Linked DNA regions of Homo sapiens: region 1 is linked to region 2. The links come from fine-mapping of genetic effects on plasma protein levels. A gene starts in region 2. The other region holds a variant in brackets. All regions are shown on one strand. Distances are between the middles of the regions.

Region 1 (9,326 bases), 50 kb after region 2:
CATGCCTTCTCTGCTTCCGTTCTCACCCCCTCCAGTCTTTCTCTCCGTGCATGCATGCTATTCTTTATTTTATTTATTTTTATTTTATTTTATTTTTTGAGATGGGATTTCACTGTTGTTGTCTAGGCTGGAGTGCAGTGGCAAGGTCTCGGCTCACTGCAACCTCCACCTCCTGGTTCAAGCGATTCATCTGCCTCAGCCTCCTGAGTAGCTGGGATTACAGGCATCCACCACCATGCCCCCCTAATTTTTGTATTTTTAGTAGAGACGGGGTTTCACCATGTTGATCAGGCTGGTCTCAAACTCCTGACCTCAGGTGATCCACCCGCCTCAGCCTCCCAAAGTGCTGGGATTACAGGTGTGAACCACCGTACCCGGCTATCAATTATTTTTTTGAAACAGATTTTGTCTCTGTTGTCCGGGCTGGAGTGCAGTGGCGCAGTCTCAGCGCACTACAACCTCCACCTCTCAGGTTCAAGTGATTTTCCTGCCTCAGCCTCCTGAGTAGCTGGGACCACAGGCATGTGTCACCACGCCCGGCTAATTTTTGTATTTGTGGTAGAGACAGGGTTTCGCTATGTTGGCCAGGCCGGTCTTGAAATTCCCTGGATGACCTATTAAACAGTCATCCCACCCTCCCTTTCGCTGCCTTCTAAAGGTGCTCAAATTTCTTGATGGCATTTGTCACTTACCAGTCATTGTACTTTTGCTAATTATTGTCTGTTCCTCCTTCCAAGATGGAATGCAAGCTCAGCAAGGCAAGGGCAGGGACTTAGTTTCACTCTGTGCTGTAAATCAGTGCCCGACGCGTGGTAAGTGCTCAAATATTTGCTGAATGAATGAATGAAGGATGGTGGTTCTTCCCTCAGGCTCAGAAGCGGAATCAGAAAGCCACACCAAACAGTCCTCGGACCCCTCTTCCACCAGGTGCTCCCTCCCCAGAATCAAAGAAGAACCAGAAAAAGCAGTATCAGTTGCCCAGTTTCCCAGAACCCAAATCATCCACTCAAGCCCCAGAATCCCAGGAGAGCCAAGAGGAGCTCCATTATGCCACGCTCAACTTCCCAGGCGTCAGACCCAGGCCTGAGGCCCGGATGCCCAAGGGCACCCAGGCGGATTATGCAGAAGTCAAGTTCCAATGAGGGTCTCTTAGGCTTTAGGACTGGGACTTCGGCTAGGGAGGAAGGTAGAGTAAGAGGTTGAAGATAACAGAGTGCAAAGTTTCCTTCTCTCCCTCTCTCTCTCTCTTTCTCTCTCTCTCTCTCTTTCTCTCTCTTTTAAAAAAACATCTGGCCAGGGCACAGTGGCTCACGCCTGTAATCCCAGCACTTTGGGAGGTTGAGGTGGGCAGATCGCCTGAGGTCGGGAGTTCGAGACCAGCCTGGCCAACTTGGTGAAACCCCGTCTCTACTAAAAATACAAAAATTAGCTGGGCATGGTGGCAGGCGCCTGTAATCCTACCTACTTGGGAAGCTGAGGCAGGAGAATCACTTGAACCTGGGAGACGGAGGTTGCAGTGAGCCAAGATCACACCATTGCACGCCAGCCTGGGCAACAAAGCGAGACTCCATCTCAAAAAAAAAATCCTCCAAATGGGTTGGGTGTCTGTAATCCCAGCACTTTGGGAGGCTAAGGTGGGTGGATTGCTTGAGCCCAGGAGTTCGAGACCAGCCTGGGCAACATGGTGAAACCCCATCTCTACAAAAAATACAAAACATAGCTGGGCTTGGTGGTGTGTGCCTGTAGTCCCAGCTGTCAGACATTTAAACCAGAGCAACTCCATCTGGAATAGGAGCTGAATAAAATGAGGCTGAGACCTACTGGGCTGCATTCTCAGACAGTGGAGGCATTCTAAGTCACAGGATGAGACAGGAGGTCCGTACAAGATACAGGTCATAAAGACTTTGCTGATAAAACAGATTGCAGTAAAGAAGCCAACCAAATCCCACCAAAACCAAGTTGGCCACGAGAGTGACCTCTGGTCGTCCTCACTGCTACACTCCTGACAGCACCATGACAGTTTACAAATGCCATGGCAACATCAGGAAGTTACCCGATATGTCCCAAAAGGGGGAGGAATGAATAATCCACCCCTTGTTTAGCAAATAAGCAAGAAATAACCATAAAAGTGGGCAACCAGCAGCTCTAGGCGCTGCTCTTGTCTATGGAGTAGCCATTCTTTTGTTCCTTTACTTTCTTAATAAACTTGCTTTCACCTTACCGCCTCGTCTTGAATTATTTCTTGTGTGAGATCCAAGAACCCTCTCTTGGGGGGTCTAGATCAGGACCCCTTTCTTGTAACACAGCTACTTGGGAGGCAGACGCAGGAGGATCACTTGAACCCAGGAAGCAGAGGCTGTGGTGAGCCAAGATCACACCACTGCACTCCAGCCTGAGCAACAGAGTGAGACCCTGTCTCGAAAAAATAAAAATCCTCCATGGATAGGCCATCTCATCCCAGACCTGGGCATTCGGAACAGCCTGACAAATCTGTCCTGAATGGCCTTCTCTGAATATGGTGTTCTGAGAAGGCAGGCAAAGATTTGCCTTTGACACACCCCAGCTCCAGTCCAGAGGACTGCGCAGTTTCATGGGTTCTCAGAGATGGGAGGGTCTTTAAAGATGACTAGATACAGCCAGGCGCAGTGGCTCACGCCTGTAATCCCAGCACTTTGGGAGGCTGAGGCTGATGGATCGCTTGAGGCCAGGAGTTTGAGACCAGCCTGGCCAACATGGTAAAACCCCGTCTCTACTAAAAATACAAAAATTAGCTGGGCGTGGTGGTGCGCAACTGTAGTCCCAGCTACTCGGGAGGCTGAGGCAGATTTGCTTGAACCCAGGAGGCCGAGGTTGCAGTGAGCTGAGATGGCGCCACTGCACTCCAGCCTGTGCAACAGAGCGAGACTCTGTTTAAAAAAAAAAAAAAGACTAGATAGGCTCCTCAGTCACCTCCAGCCTGCTGCCTATTTTCATACCACCTGCAAGCTAGAAATGTTTTTACATTTAAATGCTTGGGGAAAAAGTCCGAAGAAGAAGACTCTTCTGGGGCCCCTGGGAAGGAGATGAAATTCAAATTTCAGTGTGGTGCCCAACCATGCTCATTCCTTTACACATTGCAGTTATTTTCATGCAGAGTTGAGTCACTAGCCTGCAAAGCCTAAAATATTTACCATCTGATCCTTTACAGAAGTTGGCTAGATCTTAATCTACATAAACTCATTTGTTTTCACAGAAGAGGAAGCGAGCGCAGAGGTCCATAAAGAGTTCAAGAGTAGCCGTGGGAAAAATGACTAGGTCTGTGACTACAGGAAGGTTTTCAGGGTGAGGATTGGAAGGGCAGGAGACTGCATGTGGATGGGGTGCTAATGCGCTCTCAGACCCACAAATCTAAAGAAGTGCAAACGCATGCGGGGATGGAGGTTGGAATGCTTTGGAAATGGAACAATGACAAACTTACAACATGCTAAGAATCACACAGTGGCTCACGCCTGTAATCCCAACACTTTGGGAGGCTGAGGTGGGCGGATCACCTGATGTCAGGAGTTCAAGACCAGCCTGGCCAACATGGTGAAACCCCGTCTCACCTAAAAAAATACAAAAATTAGCCAGGTGTGGTGGCGGGCACCTGTAATCCCAGCTCCTCGGGAGGCTGAGGCAGGAGAATTGCTTGAACCTGGGAGATGGAGGTTGCAGAAGCCGAGATCATGCCACTGCATTCCAGCCTGGGCAATAGAGTGGGACTCCGTCTCAAAAGAAAAGAAATAGAGCAAAGGAGAGCACTTTGCTGGCCATCTCCTCTGCTGACCTCTGCTCCTCCATAGCCACCCAAGGGGCCTTTCTTCGGTAGTTATTGCATCGTTGGTGACATGGCAAGGTGGCCCTCTCTGGTGTGTTTTGTTTCCTGGCTGTGCTAAACACTCCAGATACTGAAAAATAAAAAATTAAAAACTGAGCTGGACACGGTGGCTCACGCCTGTAATCCAGCACTTTGTGAGGCCGAGGCAGGCGGATCACTTGAGCTCAGGAGTTCGAGACCAGTCTGAGCAACAGAGCGAGAGCCTGTCTCTACTAAAAATACAAAAATTAGCCAGGTGTGGTGGCAGGTGCCTGTATTCCTCAGCTATTCAGGATCCTGAGGCATGAGAATCGCTTGAACCTGGGAGGCAGAGGCTGCAGTGAGCTGAGATCGCGTCACTGCACTCTAGCCTGGGTGACACAGCGAGACTATGTCTCAAAAACAAAGAAAAAACCTGAATTAGCTGCAAGGACCAAAGTTGGCCACCAGACGTCGGTATACCCAGGATGATAGGACTATAGACTCATGGTGTGGAATGGGATCACCCAATGCAGCCACCTCATTTTACAGAAGGACTTCAGAGAGGGACAAGGTCTTGCATGTCACACAGCTGAACTCCAGAGCTGGGATTCAAACTCAGGCCCAGGATGGGTGAGCACTGCTGGTTACACAGTCTCCTTTAAGCTTAGAGTGGGAAGGATGCTGCAAGGGCTTGAGAA[A/G]AAGGGAACTCCCTACAAGCTGCACAAAGACTGAGACTCTGCTTCCTTCCTTCTACCACCAAATTCTGCCATGAGAGCAACCCTTGAAGATCTGTTTGACCTGGGAAATTACAAGATTGCATTGCTAAGGCACCAGGTTTGACTAGGTGTCAGTAACTTTGAAATGTGTGTGTTAAGGTCCTGACTTCTGCAATAGTGACTTGGGACTTGGAGGGAGGGCATTGTTATCCAGTACTCTTGGGGAAAGGCAATGTTGTGCAAATGAAAACAAACAAACAAACAAACAAAAACACCAGGCTTGGAGTCAGAAAACCCAAGGGGAACTTTCCGTATTGCCAAATATTCTTTTTCTTTTTTTTTTTTTTTTTTTGAGACAGTCTCGCTGTCGCCCAGGCTGGAGTGCAGTGGTGCAATCTTGGCTCACTGCAAGCTCCGCCTCCCGGGTTCATGCCATTCTCCTGCCTCAGCCTCCCGAGTAGCTGGGATTACAGGTGCCTGCCACCGCGCCCAGCTAATTTTTTGTATTTTTAGTAGAGACGGGGTCTCACTGTGTTAGCCAGGATGGTCTTGATCTCCTGACCTTGTTATCCGCCCGCCTCGGCCTCCCAAAGTGCTGGGATTACAGGCATGAGCCACTGCGCCTGGCCCCCAAATATTCTTTTTAACCAGTCAACTGGGACATTAACTGCAGGAAGTATGAATATAAAATAGTTATATGTTTTCTGATCACTGAGTCAATCATGTTTTTTTGTTTGTTTGCTTGTTTGGTTTTCGTTTTTGAGACAAGAGTCTTGTTCTGCTGCCCAGGCTGGAGTGCAATGGTGCGATCTTGGCTCCCTGCAAACTCTGCCTCCCGGGTTCAAGCGATTCTTATGCCTCAGCCTTCCGAGTAGCTGGGACTACACGTGTGCGCGCCACCACACCCAGCTAATTTTTGTATTTTTACTACTAGAGATGGGGTTTCGCTATGTTCACCAGGCTGGTCTCCAACTCCTGACCCCAACTGCTTTGCTTGCCTCAGTCTCCCAAAGTGCTGGGATAACAGATGTGAGTCACCGTGCCCAGCCTCCTCTGTTTCTTGATATGAGAGTTGTGTCCCCTGCTTCTCCCATACCTTCTCCAATTCCACCATTGGCAGACACCATGCAGCCTCTTACCGCTTTCTTGGGTGACATATCACCTAGATTGCAGAAGCCCAGCTACCCTCCTTCGTGTCCATCCACCCCCTGCTATAGACAAAATGTATGTGTCCTTCCAAAGTCTAGGTTGAATTCCTAACCCCCAATGTAATGATATTTGAAGTCAAGACCTTTGGAAGGTGATTAGGTCATGAGGGTGGTGCCCTCATAAATGGGATTAGTGCCCTTAATAAGAGACCCCAGAGAGCTGTCCCTCCTACCAAGTGAGGACACAACCAGAAGGCACCATCTGTAAGCCTGGAAGTGAGTCCACATCAGACACTGAATCTGCTGACATCTTGATCTTGGACTTCCCAGCCTCTAAAACTATAAGAAATAAATTTTCATTGTTTACAACCCATCCAGCCTATGGTATTGTTGTTATAGTAGCCAGAAAGGACTCAGAAACCCACACATCCTAACCATGCTGGACTGTGGAGTGCAGGCTACACTGCCCCAAGCTCCTCGTTGCCCCCAGCTTTTCCTCTCTAATGCTCCTCTCCCCTGCGCAGGGAGATGCAGGGCACAGCAAGAAGTTGGCTGCCCACACAGACACCCAATGGGGAGATAGTGTGTTGATTCCTCCCATTCTATCAGGAAACCCTAGTCTTTCCTAAACATTTTCTTGGAGCACCCCCTCCTATCCAGAGCCCTGGTACACGTGAAGAGTTCAGGAAAGAGAGGATGATGAAGCATCTCACCAAAGACTTCTCACCTGTCCAACAGCCAGCTGGCAGCTTTGTTTTTTTGGGAAGCTAGGCAGAGAGAAGCTTTCTGACCCCATTATTGGCTGCCCTCTTTAAACCATTTAAGAGGCAACAGAAAAAGTCCTATTCGGGGCGGGGCACAGTGGCTCACGGCTGTAATCCCAAGACTTTGGGAGGCCAAGGCGGGTGGATCGCTTGAGGTCAGGAGTTCGAGACCAGCCTGGCTAACATGGCAAAACCCTGTCTCTACTAAAAATACAAAAATTAGCCAGATGTTGTGGCGGGTGCCTATAATCCCAGCTACTTGGGAGGCTGAGGCAGGAGAATCACTTGAACCTAGGAGGTGGGTGTTGCAGTGAGCCAAGATTGCACCACTGCACTCCAGCCTGGGCAACAGAGTGAGACTGCATCTCAAAAAAAAAAAAAAAAAAAAAAAAAAAGAAAAAGAAAAAGAAGAAAGAAAGAAAGAGAAAAAGAAAGAAAATGTCCTATTCCTGGAAACCATCATTCTGAGCAAACTGTCGCAAGGACAGAAAACCAAACACCACATGTTCTCACTCATAGGTGGGAATTGAACAATGAGAACACTTGGACACAGGGCGGGGAACATCACACACCGGGGCCTGTGGTGGGGTTGGGGGATGGGGGAGGGATAGCATTAGGAGAAATACCTAACGTAAATGATGAGTTAATGGATGCAGCAAACCAACATGGCACATGTATACATATGTAACAAACCTGCACGTTGTGCACATGTACCCTAGAACTTAAAGTATAATAATAATAAAAAAAGAAAATGTCCTATTCGACATTTGCTAATGAGGAGGACTTAGGTATCATTTATACAGAAAATGTCATCTTTATTAAATAAGTCATACCCCCACCCTCAAGTTTTTGCAGCAAAATGGCTCTGCAAAGAGTTTCTGCCATGGATTGAAAGTTTGTGTCCCTCCAAAATTCATGTTGAAACTTAATCCCCAATGCAATAATATGAAGAGACAGGGCCTTTAGGAGGTAATTATGTCATGAGGGATCCTCTTTCATGAATGGGATTTAGACTATAAAAGAGGCTTCACGCAGTGTTGGCCCCTTTTTGCCCTTCCACCTTCCATAAGAGAGGCACATCTTGGAAGCAGAGATCAGGCCCTCACCAGATACTGAACCTGCTGGTGCCTTGATCTTGGACTTCGCAGCCTCCAGAGCCATGAGAAGTACTTTTTTATTATTTAAATATTACCCAGTTTGTGGTATTCTGCTATAGCCACACAAATGAACTAAGACAGCCTGTGATATGAAGATGGCACCAATCCTGCCCCACGCTCATGAGAGCTCTTCAAGAAAGCACTGGCAATGCTCACGATGGATTTTGAAACAGGCAGAGATGAACTCTCCCAAGTGGTAATTCCCACACCTACATCAACAGCCTCCAGCTCCAGAGAGCACCACGTTTATTTCTTCTTGACTTTTTTTTTTTTTTTTTTGAGATGGAATCTCCCTCTGTTTCCCAGGCTGGAGTGCACTGGCACGATCTCAGCTCACTGCAACCTCCGCCTCCCAGGTTCAAGAGATTCTCCTGCCTCAGCCTCCTGGGTAGCTGGGATTACAGGCATGCACCACCACCCCTGACTAATTTTTGTATTTTTTCTTAGTAGAGACAGGGTTTCACCATGTTGGCCAGCATGGTCTCGAACTCCTGACCTCGTGATCCATCCACCTCAGCCTCCCAAAGTGCTGGGACTACAGGCATGAGCCACCATGCCCGACCTTAAATTTTTTTGGTAGATATGGGGTCTTGCTTTGTTGCCGATGCTGATCTCAAATTCCTGGCCTCAAGCAGGCCTCCTGCCTCAGCTATCCAGGCGACTAGGATGACAGGCGTGAGCCACCACACCCAGCCTGCATCTATTGTTTCCCAGACATCTGTATGTGGACACCCTGCAAGTACCTCATGTCCAAAACACATGCATTATCCTCTCATGCTCTCCTAAATGCTCCCAGCCTGAAAGCCCTTCTTCCCTTCATATCCTTGATCTTAGCTTACCATGCCACCATTGCCCAAACTCAAAATCTTAGGAACAACTCTGACTTATCCCTCACTCCACGTATCGGCAACTCCCGGTCATTCTCCCTCCTAAATATCAGGTGGTGCTGCCTCCCCCACCCTCCCAGCTGCCACTGATCCTGATGTTCCATCACTTGGACTGTGTATACATACGTATGTTAAAAGAATAGATGCCCGTTTTCTGCCTCATGGGAGCTGGGAGCCCGACGTTTCCAGGAGCACCGCGTGGAGTTAGTGTCGGCCGCTTTTGGCATGGCAGCTTTTTCTGGCCTGGCTGAGATCTCACTGCTTAACCCGCAGGAAGATGTCCAGTTTCAAAAGGAGGTGGCGCAGGTTTGCAAGCACATAACCCAGCAAAAAAAACAAGAACAACCCTACTTAACGAAACCCAGATCTTTTCATATTTCTCCCAGTTTGGCACTGTGACACAGTTCAGACTGTCCAGAAGTAAAATGACTGGAAATGGCAAAGGCTATGCATTTGTGGAGTTTGAGTCTGAGGATGTTGCCAAGATAGTTGCTGAAACAATGAACAACTACCTGTTTGGTGAAAGACTCTTGGAGTGTCATTTTATGCCACCTGGAAAAGTACATAAAGAACTCTTTAAACACTGGAATATTCCATTTAAGCAGCCATCAAATCCATCAGCGAAATGGTATAATCAGAATCGGACACTAACACAAAAGCTACAGATGAGGAGTGATTTAAAAAGAAATAAAGATTACTCAGGAAGAAATTAGCTGGCTGGGCACGGTGGCTCACGCCCGTAATCCCAGCACTTTGGGAGGCCAAGGTGGGTGGATCACCTGAGGTCAGGTATTGGGGAAAAGCTGAGTGTTGGGAAAAAAGCTGAGGCAGGGCTTG
Region 2 (9,326 bases):
TCGGGGTTCCACAAGCCCTGCCTGTGTTTCAAGCATCACAGCCCTTACTAACAGGAGCTGGGGTGGCCCAGGGCTCCTCTGCCCCCTCGTTCATTAGGGAACTTCCCAAGGAAGGAGACAGAGTCTGTCACACTCTCCCCTTTGCCTCCATCCCCCTGAAAGGAGGAGATGCTCCTGATGTGGTGATTGTGCTCATTCATTAAACATCACCTCTCCCGCCTCGGGGGACCCCTCCCCATCTCTCATGCCTCGTGGTTCCTCCGCCAGCCCCTCCTGAGTCCCAGCTCTGGCAGGACTGACCCTCCCGAGCACCTAGAAGCTGTAATGGACAGGCAGTGCCTGCTTCCCTGGTGTGGACAGTGCTGTGGGAGGGAAAGGCTGTGGGCAGAGAGCCTGCAGCTGTGGGTCGGGGCCTCCCTGCTGTGTGTGGCCCACACTGAAGACCCATCCGGAGAGTAGAAATGGCCACTCCCCAGGAGCCCTGACAGCTCTGGCAGTGTCGGGGCCAAGGTCCTCTTTTGTGGTCAGTTATTTTTCTGATCTTACCCCCAGGCTTCCTGTGGGGCCCTTCTAGGGCCCTGCGACACCAAGGCTCACCCTAAAGAAGCTCACGCTGCAATAGCTGCTGCCCCTGCTGTGGGCAGGAGAATGGGCCTCAGGGAGAGGAACCATGGGGCTGGGCTGGGCTGACCCTCATTTCCCCACAGGGGATCTGGCTCAGGATATGAGATCCCGGCAGGAAGCCCCAGAGTTGGTGCAGGTGCAGGAGGGTTTCTGTGACTACGCACTGCTCCATCTTCCACCCCTGTGGGTACCTGTCTGACTCCAGCCCTGTCCAAGGCTACTGTCCCAGAAAGGGGACATTTCCATCAGGATCCTCAAGTGGCTGGAAGCAATCTAGTTGGAAAAGAGCAGGAGGAGACCCAGAGCCAATTCCACCTGCTTCAGACCCCAGGCCAGCACCTGCTTTCTGGACGTCAGAGACACACAGAGGCGAGATGCAGGGACAGACCTCTTTAGGGAGAAAAGGGAGATCTATGTGAATGTAATTACAGAAATGCTCTATGTGCATGTGAAGGGTAAGGAATGAGGTTATGAAAGGACACACGAATGGGGGTTCCCAGGGCAGTGAAGCTGACACATCAAATTAACTGTCACACTGCCCAAGGAGGCAGTGCTCAGCTCATACACAGAAACACACAGGTACACACAGACACTCCCTCTCCCTCACACACAGGGTCTCTCTCTCTCTGTCTCTCTCTCTCTCTCAATCACACACACACACACACACACACACACACACACACACACACCCAAGCATTGGGCATTCTGGGTACTGAGATGCGCTGTGTCCTTCCCTTTGCCCTGGGAAGCTGGGTCTCCCCTGAAAAGGTGAATGGCGCTAGTTGTCAGGTCAAAGAGACCCTGGGACATCGTCTTAGGATGAGAGAACTATTTGGGATGCCATTTTATGGATCCCTTGCCTGTCACTGTATGTGTCTCTCTGGGCCACCTGTGTCCATGTGGGTCACCAATCCCCATGTCAGGATTCAATGATTCTCTGCTCCCTAAGGCATAGCCCGTGGTGTCCCACACGCCCTCCTTGCCGTCCAGCAGGTGAACAAGTGAGCGGCTATCGTGTCTCCCTATGAGATGGGCCAGTGGTCAGCGTCAATATGTGAGAGCTGCAACAGCTCCTGCCCCTACACGGACCCCTCAGGGCTGCTGCTCCAACTTCCCCCTTCCCTTGTGGTGAACTTTGTCCAGGAAGCAAACAGGGAAGGGGATTCTGGGAATTGTAGTTCCAGCCTGGCTAAGTTGCTGGAGAGCAAGGCCTGCACAGGAGTCTTCACTGAAGGCTTCAATTACCACTTGGGGACCATGGAAAAGACCTGTGCCATGGCTCGGCCCTTCTGACTATTGAGATACTGCAGCTGTCTCTACTGGGCAAGGATAGGAGGCCCAGGAGGGGGAAATGGCTGCAGAATGAGATACCAGCTACAAATGCAAGCATTGGTGATGGGGGTGGGAGTCGGCTATGCACACCCAAGCCCTGCACCTTCCCTTCTCAATTATCACAGCCGAATGATCTACTCCAGGTTATAAGTAATGAGGGGAAGATAGGAGACGGGCAGATCCATGAAGCTGAGTGGAAGAAAGTAGAGTTTGATTTTCTGTGTATACAAAGTCTTCAGAAAAACGTGCAAAAGCTTAGTAAATGCAGCCTGCTCAGATAATAAAACTATATAGAAAAGCATTGAGGCAATTTGCACCAAAGTGAGGCTAGGGGATCGTTTGGGAGGGAGTGGGGTGTGGCCAATAAGAAGGAGAAACAAATGAGCAGCGCTGGGGACTTTGTCAATGTGCCATTTCTAGGAGGGGGCTCGTTGTATGTAAATCACTGAGGTCTTCTTTGGGGGTTGTTTTTATCTATATTTCTTATATTTACCCCCCAAAAAATGTTTCAAGAAAATTGACCTGAGTCTAAGGAGGCTCCGCCTCCCAGGATCCCCCTTAACTTCTTCCCAGCCCCCAGCCACACAGTTTAAAATAATCTGTTGAGGCCAGGCACGGTGGCTCACACCTGTAATCCCAGCACTTTGGGAGGCTGAGGTGGGTGGATCATGAGGTCAGGAGATCCAGACCATCCTGGTCGACATGGTGAAACCCCGGCTCTACTAAAAATACAAAAATTAGCTGGATGTGGTGGCGTATGCCTGTAATCCTAGCTACTTGGGAGGCTGAGGCAGGAGAATCGCTTGAACCAGGGAGTCAGAGGTTGCAGTGAGCCGGGATCGCGCCACTGCACTCCAGCCTGGCGACAGAGAGAGACTCCGTCTCAAATAATAATAATAATAATAATAATAATAATCATCATCATCATCATCATCATCATCATCATCTGTTGAATTCAGGTGCACATTTCTTCTCTCAAGAAATCCTGCCCATCGCTGAAGGTGCACACCCCAGGGCTGGTGTCCTCGTTCCATGACACCTGTTCACCTGGACCCCTGGAAGCAGAGCCTGCAGGAGCAAAGCCCCAGGGCTGACAGACCCCGCCTGCTGTGCAGTAACCAGGGGAAGTGTGGCTGAGTAAGATACGGGTGGTGAAGAAACCCATTCTGATACCCAGATAGCTGCAACAAAGGGAGAAGTGTGTGCCCTTTTCAAATTGACCCTTTCCCTTCTGACATTTCTCCCTTCCAAACCCCACAGTACAACAGTTACAGCCTCAGTTTCCCAGGCCTCCTGCGAGCCAGGCTTCCCCCCGCCCCCCGTCCTTCGTGTGTATCAACATGCAGAATCCTCACCTCCACAGCCCCGTGTCCCTCTGCTCAGGCCTCCTGAGACTGAACCCCTGACCTAGGGGAGAACGACCCCACCTTGCCTGTGCCCCCCACTGAAGCTCCCGTCCTGGGGAGCTCAGACGTCAGGAGCCTCCGTGTCTCCCCTCTGCACAGTGACTCCTTGAGGACAGTGTCTGGCTCTGCTCTGTTGACCTCGTTGTGTAAAGAGGAGGTGCCCACTTCGTTGCTGCTGAGAGAGGGAGGAGAGGCTGCCTGCTCACCTCACCTGCACCCCAGTCTCTCATGGCCCTGAGTTCCACCTTTGGCTGGTATGACCTCCACAAACAGTGACAGCCCCGGGGGTGATTCAGGGGTCTGGCCAGATGGGACCCAATTTCACCTTGCAGAAAATGTTACCCAAATGGAAGGGCAAGTCCGGGAAGCAAGAAAGAGGTTGGGCCCTGCATAGGGTGGGAATCTGGATGAGTTTCTCACCCTCTCTGGCCTCAGGGTTCCCAGGAGTGGAAATGGGGTGGTGGACAGTGGATCTCCCAGGACTGACCCGGCCCTGACAGTGTCTGTGTGTGAAGTTCCTCCTCTGAGGAGGTCACTTTTCTGACTTCACCCCCAACCTCCTGCGGGACCTCCCCTAAGTCTTGAGACCTCAGTTTCTGAGAGAAGAACCCTGAGGAACAGACGTTCCCTGGCGGCCCTGGCGCCTTCAAACCCAGACATGCTGCTGCTGCTGCTGCTGCTGCCCCTGCTCTGGGGGACAAAGGGGATGGAGGGAGACAGACAATATGGGGATGGTTACTTGCTGCAAGTGCAGGAGCTGGTGACGGTGCAGGAGGGCCTGTGTGTCCATGTGCCCTGCTCCTTCTCCTACCCCCAGGATGGCTGGACTGACTCTGACCCAGTTCATGGCTACTGGTTCCGGGCAGGAGACAGACCATACCAAGACGCTCCAGTGGCCACAAACAACCCAGACAGAGAAGTGCAGGCAGAGACCCAGGGCCGATTCCAACTCCTTGGGGACATTTGGAGCAACGACTGCTCCCTGAGCATCAGAGACGCCAGGAAGAGGGATAAGGGGTCATATTTCTTTCGGCTAGAGAGAGGAAGCATGAAATGGAGTTACAAATCACAGTTGAATTACAAAACTAAGCAGCTGTCTGTGTTTGTGACAGGTAAGGCACGGGCTCCAGCACAGGCCACAGGGGAAGGTCATGAGGGGCTGAAAGGCAGGGCTGGGATGGGGCCTGGGAGGGGGTTGGGATTGAAATAAGTCGGTCTCCGGGGAGGAGCTGGACCAGAGCTTGAGCTTCCTCCAGGGCTGCACCTGAAATACCTCCTCCTGATCCTGTGTCCCCATCTTCACCAGCCCTGACCCATAGGCCTGACATCCTCATCCTAGGGACCCTAGAGTCTGGCCACTCCAGGAACCTGACCTGCTCTGTGCCCTGGGCCTGTAAGCAGGGGACACCCCCCATGATCTCCTGGATTGGGGCCTCCGTGTCCTCCCCGGGCCCCACTACTGCCCGCTCCTCAGTGCTCACCCTTACCCCAAAGCCCCAGGACCACGGCACCAGCCTCACCTGTCAGGTGACCTTGCCTGGGACAGGTGTGACCACGACCAGTACCGTCCGCCTCGATGTGTCCTGTGAGTGCTGGACCAAGATGCCCAGGTCCCTCATGGGTTGGGAGGTGTTCCTGAGGGCAGGGGATGGGGTTCAAGCCTGGACACTGGGTTCTGGGTCCCAGAATCTGGGCTGGGAGTGGGGTCAGGAGAATGCCGACTCCATTTTCCCTGTATTTGCAGCTCCTGGGAAGACAGGGCCAATGTCCCCAGTCCTTATAGTAATGTGGGTCTTCATGTCTTTCTGTCCCAGACCCTCCTTGGAACTTGACCATGACTGTCTTCCAAGGAGATGCCACAGGTAGGACAGAGCCCCCTCCCTGGGGTTGGGGGAGCAGGGCCTTCAGCTCAGGATGGGGCTGGGTCTCTCCTCATCCTGGAATCACTTTGGGAAACAGAGCTGCCACTGTGCGTGAGCCCAGGGCACAAGAGCCCACATCTCCAGCCCGCGTGACCATCTGAGCCCCTGTCCCCATCCTGTCCCTGCTCCCCTTAGACTCCTCCACACACCCCTTCCTTGGCCCCACAGCAAGGACAGGGTGACATTCACACAGCTGGATCAGACTCCCAATTTTTTTGGTTTTTGTTCGTTTTTATTTTGGGACCAGACTTTCAAGTTTCTTGTCAGGCATCTCCTGAATACTTCCTCTGTCTGATCTTTCTGTTTTCCCAGTAGTTTCGATCTAAGTACTTCTGCCCAGATGATACAGTCACATGGGCAGAAATTCAAAATGCACAGCAAAGTCTGTCCTCCAGTGCCCATCCCCCTCCACGGAACTGACCAGCGTCCGTCCAGGCTGCCCTGAGTCTTGGTTTGTGCACCTGGAGGATCTCAGAGGTGGTTTGACATCGTAGTGAGACTGTCCACCCCGTCCTCTAGGACCGTGTGTGATTTCACTGCACAGATGGACTCTGACTTTGTGGCATCCCTTAAGGAAAATCATGGCACAAATATCCTTCCGCAGAAACTGTGCAGTGGATAGTCTTGTATCTACTTCCACAGGAATATCTAAGTGTATGGGATAAATTCCTAAAAGCAAAATATACCAGTGTCGTATGTTGTTTCTAATTTTGAAAGATGCAGTGAAGTTGTTCTCAATTAAAAGTGGACAAGTTTACATTCCCAGCACTGAGTGTGCGTTTTCCTGCACTTCAGTCTATGTCTGTGTGTCAGTCCCTCTCACTAGTCTCTTTCTGTGTCCTTCCTCTTTCTCTGGATCCATTTGTCTCTCTGACCCTCTGTCTCCTTTTATTATTATTATTATTATTATACTTTAAGTTTTAGGATACATGTGCACAACGTGCAGGTTTGTTACATATGTATACATGTGCCATGTTGGTGTGCTGCCCCCAGTAACTTGTCATTTAGCATTAGGTATATCTCCTAATGCTATCCCTCCCCCCACCCCACAACAGTCCCCGGTGTGTGATGTTCCCCTTCCTGTGTCCATGTGTTCTCATTGTTCAGTTCCCACTTATGAGTGAGAACATGCGGTGTTTGTTTTTTTGTCCTTGCAATAGTTTGCTGAGAATGATGGTTTCCAGCTTCATCCATGTCCCTACAAAGGACATGAACTCATCATTTTTTGTGGCTGCATAGTATTCCATGGTGTATATGTGCCACATTTTCTTAATCCAGTCTATCATTGTTGGACATTTGGGCTGGTTCCAAGTCTTTGCTATTGTGAATAGTGCCACAATAAACATACATGTGCATGTGTCTTTATAGCAGCATGATTTATAATCCTTTGGGTATATACCCAGTAATGGGATGACCCTCTGTCTCTTTCTCTGCAGCATCCACAGCCCTGGGAAATGGCTCATCTCTTTCAGTCCTTGAGGGCCAGTCTCTGCGCCTGGTCTGTGCTGTCAACAGCAATCCCCCTGCCAGGCTGAGCTGGACCCGGGGGAGCCTGACCCTGTGCCCCTCACGGTCCTCAAACCCTGGGCTGCTGGAGCTGCCTCGAGTGCACGTGAGGGATGAAGGGGAATTCACCTGCCGAGCTCAGAACGCTCAGGGCTCCCAGCACATTTCCCTGAGCCTCTCCCTGCAGAATGAGGGCACAGGTGGGTAAGGGAGGGGCTGGAGGAGGAGAACACACCTGCCCCACCCTCATGGACCACCCACTGCCCCTGAGCTTCAAGGGGGAGCTCAGCTCTGGTCTGTGCTCAGCTGTGAGGCCTGGAACTTCCCTGCGACCCAGAGCATCACTGTCCTCTCCCCGCCAGGAAAGGGGTGCGGGGTGGGGAGAGGGGAGGAGTGGGTCTTGGAGGGGAGGAGCTGGGGCCCGGCCAGGTGTGTTTGGAGGGACAAGCGCCTTGCTTTGCAGTGCTTAGACTAGGATGAGGCACATGAGGCACTTGCCTTGGCACCAAATTTAAGAAGCCAAAGAAAAACCCAACTCAGAAAGCAAGTAAAGTAATATTGCAATGCCATGATCTTTTGAAAAAACTAAAATTGAATGCAAAATGATTCCACAAGAACACAATATCAAAATTGTAAATAAAGGCAAGACAAGCTGCATCCAGCACTCTCATGCCTCACTGGCCTCAGAAGTAGTCTCCTTTCCTCCCTCCCATTCGTATTCTGTGTCTGGGAAGGAGAAGAGGGGAATGGAAGTCTAGGGCCCTGCAGACAGTGGGAGGGGAAGAGACCCACTTCTCCGTGATATAAATCCCCAAAGCAACTCCAATCCATCTGCAGGCACCTCAAGACCTGTATCACAAGTGACACTGGCAGCAGTCGGGGGAGCTGGAGCCACAGCCCTGGCCTTCCTGTCCTTCTGCATCATCTTCATCATGTGAGCATTGACCCTGGGGAGGGAGAGAGAGACCTGGGGCAGGGCAGACCGGGAACAGAATCCCTGAAGCCAGAGCTGGAAGGACCTGGATGGGTCCAGGGCTTGGGGCAAGAATGAGCTCACGGGTGCACGGTGAGCATTTCACGAGCGTCCTTGTCTGTGGGGCTCCACATCTGTAGCAACCTCGGGCCCCACCATCCATGAGGCAGGAGCCTCTGTTTTCACCGTTGGGGTCTCTGGAACTGGACCACCGCCGTTGCGCCTCGGTCACCCCTCAAGCCCCCAGTAGGAAATACAGGGCAGGGGTTGGTCTGCCCACTGCACCCCGATCTGACCACACTGAAAGGCTCTCTGGTCTCTTCACTCAGAGTGAGGTCCTGCAGGAAGAAATCGGCAAGGCCAGCAGCGGGCGTGGGGGATACAGGCATGGAAGATGCAAAGGCCATCAGGGGCTCGGCCTCTCAGGTGAGTGATGTGGGCTTCTCCACACCGAGCATCCAGCCTGGACACCTCTGACAGGATGGCCCCCAGGATCGCTCTCTTTGGTATGGCCAAAGTCACTTCCTCGTCTCCTCCTCCTTCCCACAGGCCGGCTTCTACAGGACTCCCCCATCTTGCTGACAGCATGGCAGTCCCTACCCCCAATTTTTCCCAGGCCAGGCACTGAGTAGGAGTTATCTCCTCTCTGTCCTCCTTTTCTTCTCTATAGCCCCGATTCACCATCTCTCCTCCATTTTTCCTCCCCAAGAATAGCTGGCATCTCTTCTCCCTGGCCCCAGCCATCCTGACCCCTCTCATTATTTTTCCTATTGGCGGGACCTGATTTCTTTGACCGGCTTGTCATCCTTACGCCACTAACCTGTGAGCTTCCCCAGGTCAGGTATCATGTCTCAATTAAGGCCCTGTAATTCTCTCTCATTTACTCTCGTTTTGCCCGTTGTATCATAATTTACATGTAGATACTCATTTCTTATTTTTATTTTTTTCTCGAGGCAGAATCTTGCTCTGTCACCTAGGCTGGAGTGCAGTGGGGCAATCTCGGCTCACTGCAACCTCTGCCTCCCAGGTTCAAGCAATTCTCCTGCCTCAGCCTCCCAAGTAGCCAGGATTACAGGCACGCGCCACCAAGCCAGGCTAATTTTTGTATTTTTAGTAGAGACGGGGTTTCACCATGTCGGCCAGCTGGTCTCGAACTCCTGACCTCGTGATCCGCCCGCCTCAGCCTCCCAAAGTGTTAGGATTAGGGGCATGAGCCACCGCACCCAAGCTGATATTCATTTCTTTAACAGTCATTTGTTGCCACCTCCCTCAATTAAAGACTGAGCTGCCACTTTGGGAGGCCAAGGTAGGAGGATCGCTTGAGCCCAGGAGTTTGAGACCAGCCTGGGCAACATAATGAGATCCCATCTCTACAAAAAAATGCAAAACTTAACCAGGCATGGTGGTGAGTTCCTGCAGTCCCAGCTACTTGGGGGGCTGAGATGGAATGATCCCTTGAGCCCAGGAAGTGGAGGGTGCAGTGAGCTGGGATTGCACCACTGCACTCCAGCCTGGGCAACAGAGCCAGACTCTGTCTCAAAAAAAAAACCAAAAAACAAAACA

Alleles and levels. Alleles are on the strand shown, and positions count from the first base shown. The strength of an association depends on the size of the effect and on how common the allele is.
In carriers of allele G in region 1, the plasma level of the protein whose gene starts at base 3,954 in region 2 tends to be lower than with A alone (moderate association).

The links. PIP is the chance, under the fine-mapping model, that this variant and not a neighbour inherited with it causes the effect. The UK Biobank Pharma Proteomics Project read protein levels with antibody pairs (Olink). The fine-mapping took linkage between variants from a reference panel, not from the people measured, so its PIPs are less certain.
Region 1: its variant is fine-mapped to the plasma level of the SIGLEC8 protein (UK Biobank, PIP above 0.99).

Annotation. Positions count from the first base shown.
Region 1 is chr19:51,402,915-51,412,240 of GRCh38, reverse strand. It overlaps SIGLEC10 (sialic acid binding Ig like lectin 10), which reads left to right. Exons shown (of 11, transcript NM_033130.5): 11 at 870-2,221. The coding sequence ends at 1,142. It also overlaps the pseudogene NIFKP6. Among named protein-coding and RNA genes, the nearest start is that of SIGLEC10-AS1, 8.1 kb to the left of the region's middle. RefSeq lists enhancers at 2,791-3,291, 4,309-4,358. The variant A/G (reference allele first, on the strand shown) is at 4,516.
Region 2 is chr19:51,453,082-51,462,407 of GRCh38, reverse strand. It overlaps SIGLEC8 (sialic acid binding Ig like lectin 8), which reads left to right and starts at 3,954. Exons shown (of 7, transcript NM_014442.3): 1 at 3,954-4,474; 2 at 4,669-4,947; 3 at 5,177-5,224; 4 at 6,721-6,990; 5 at 7,628-7,724; 6 at 8,093-8,189. The coding sequence starts at 4,021. It also overlaps the pseudogene SIGLEC25P.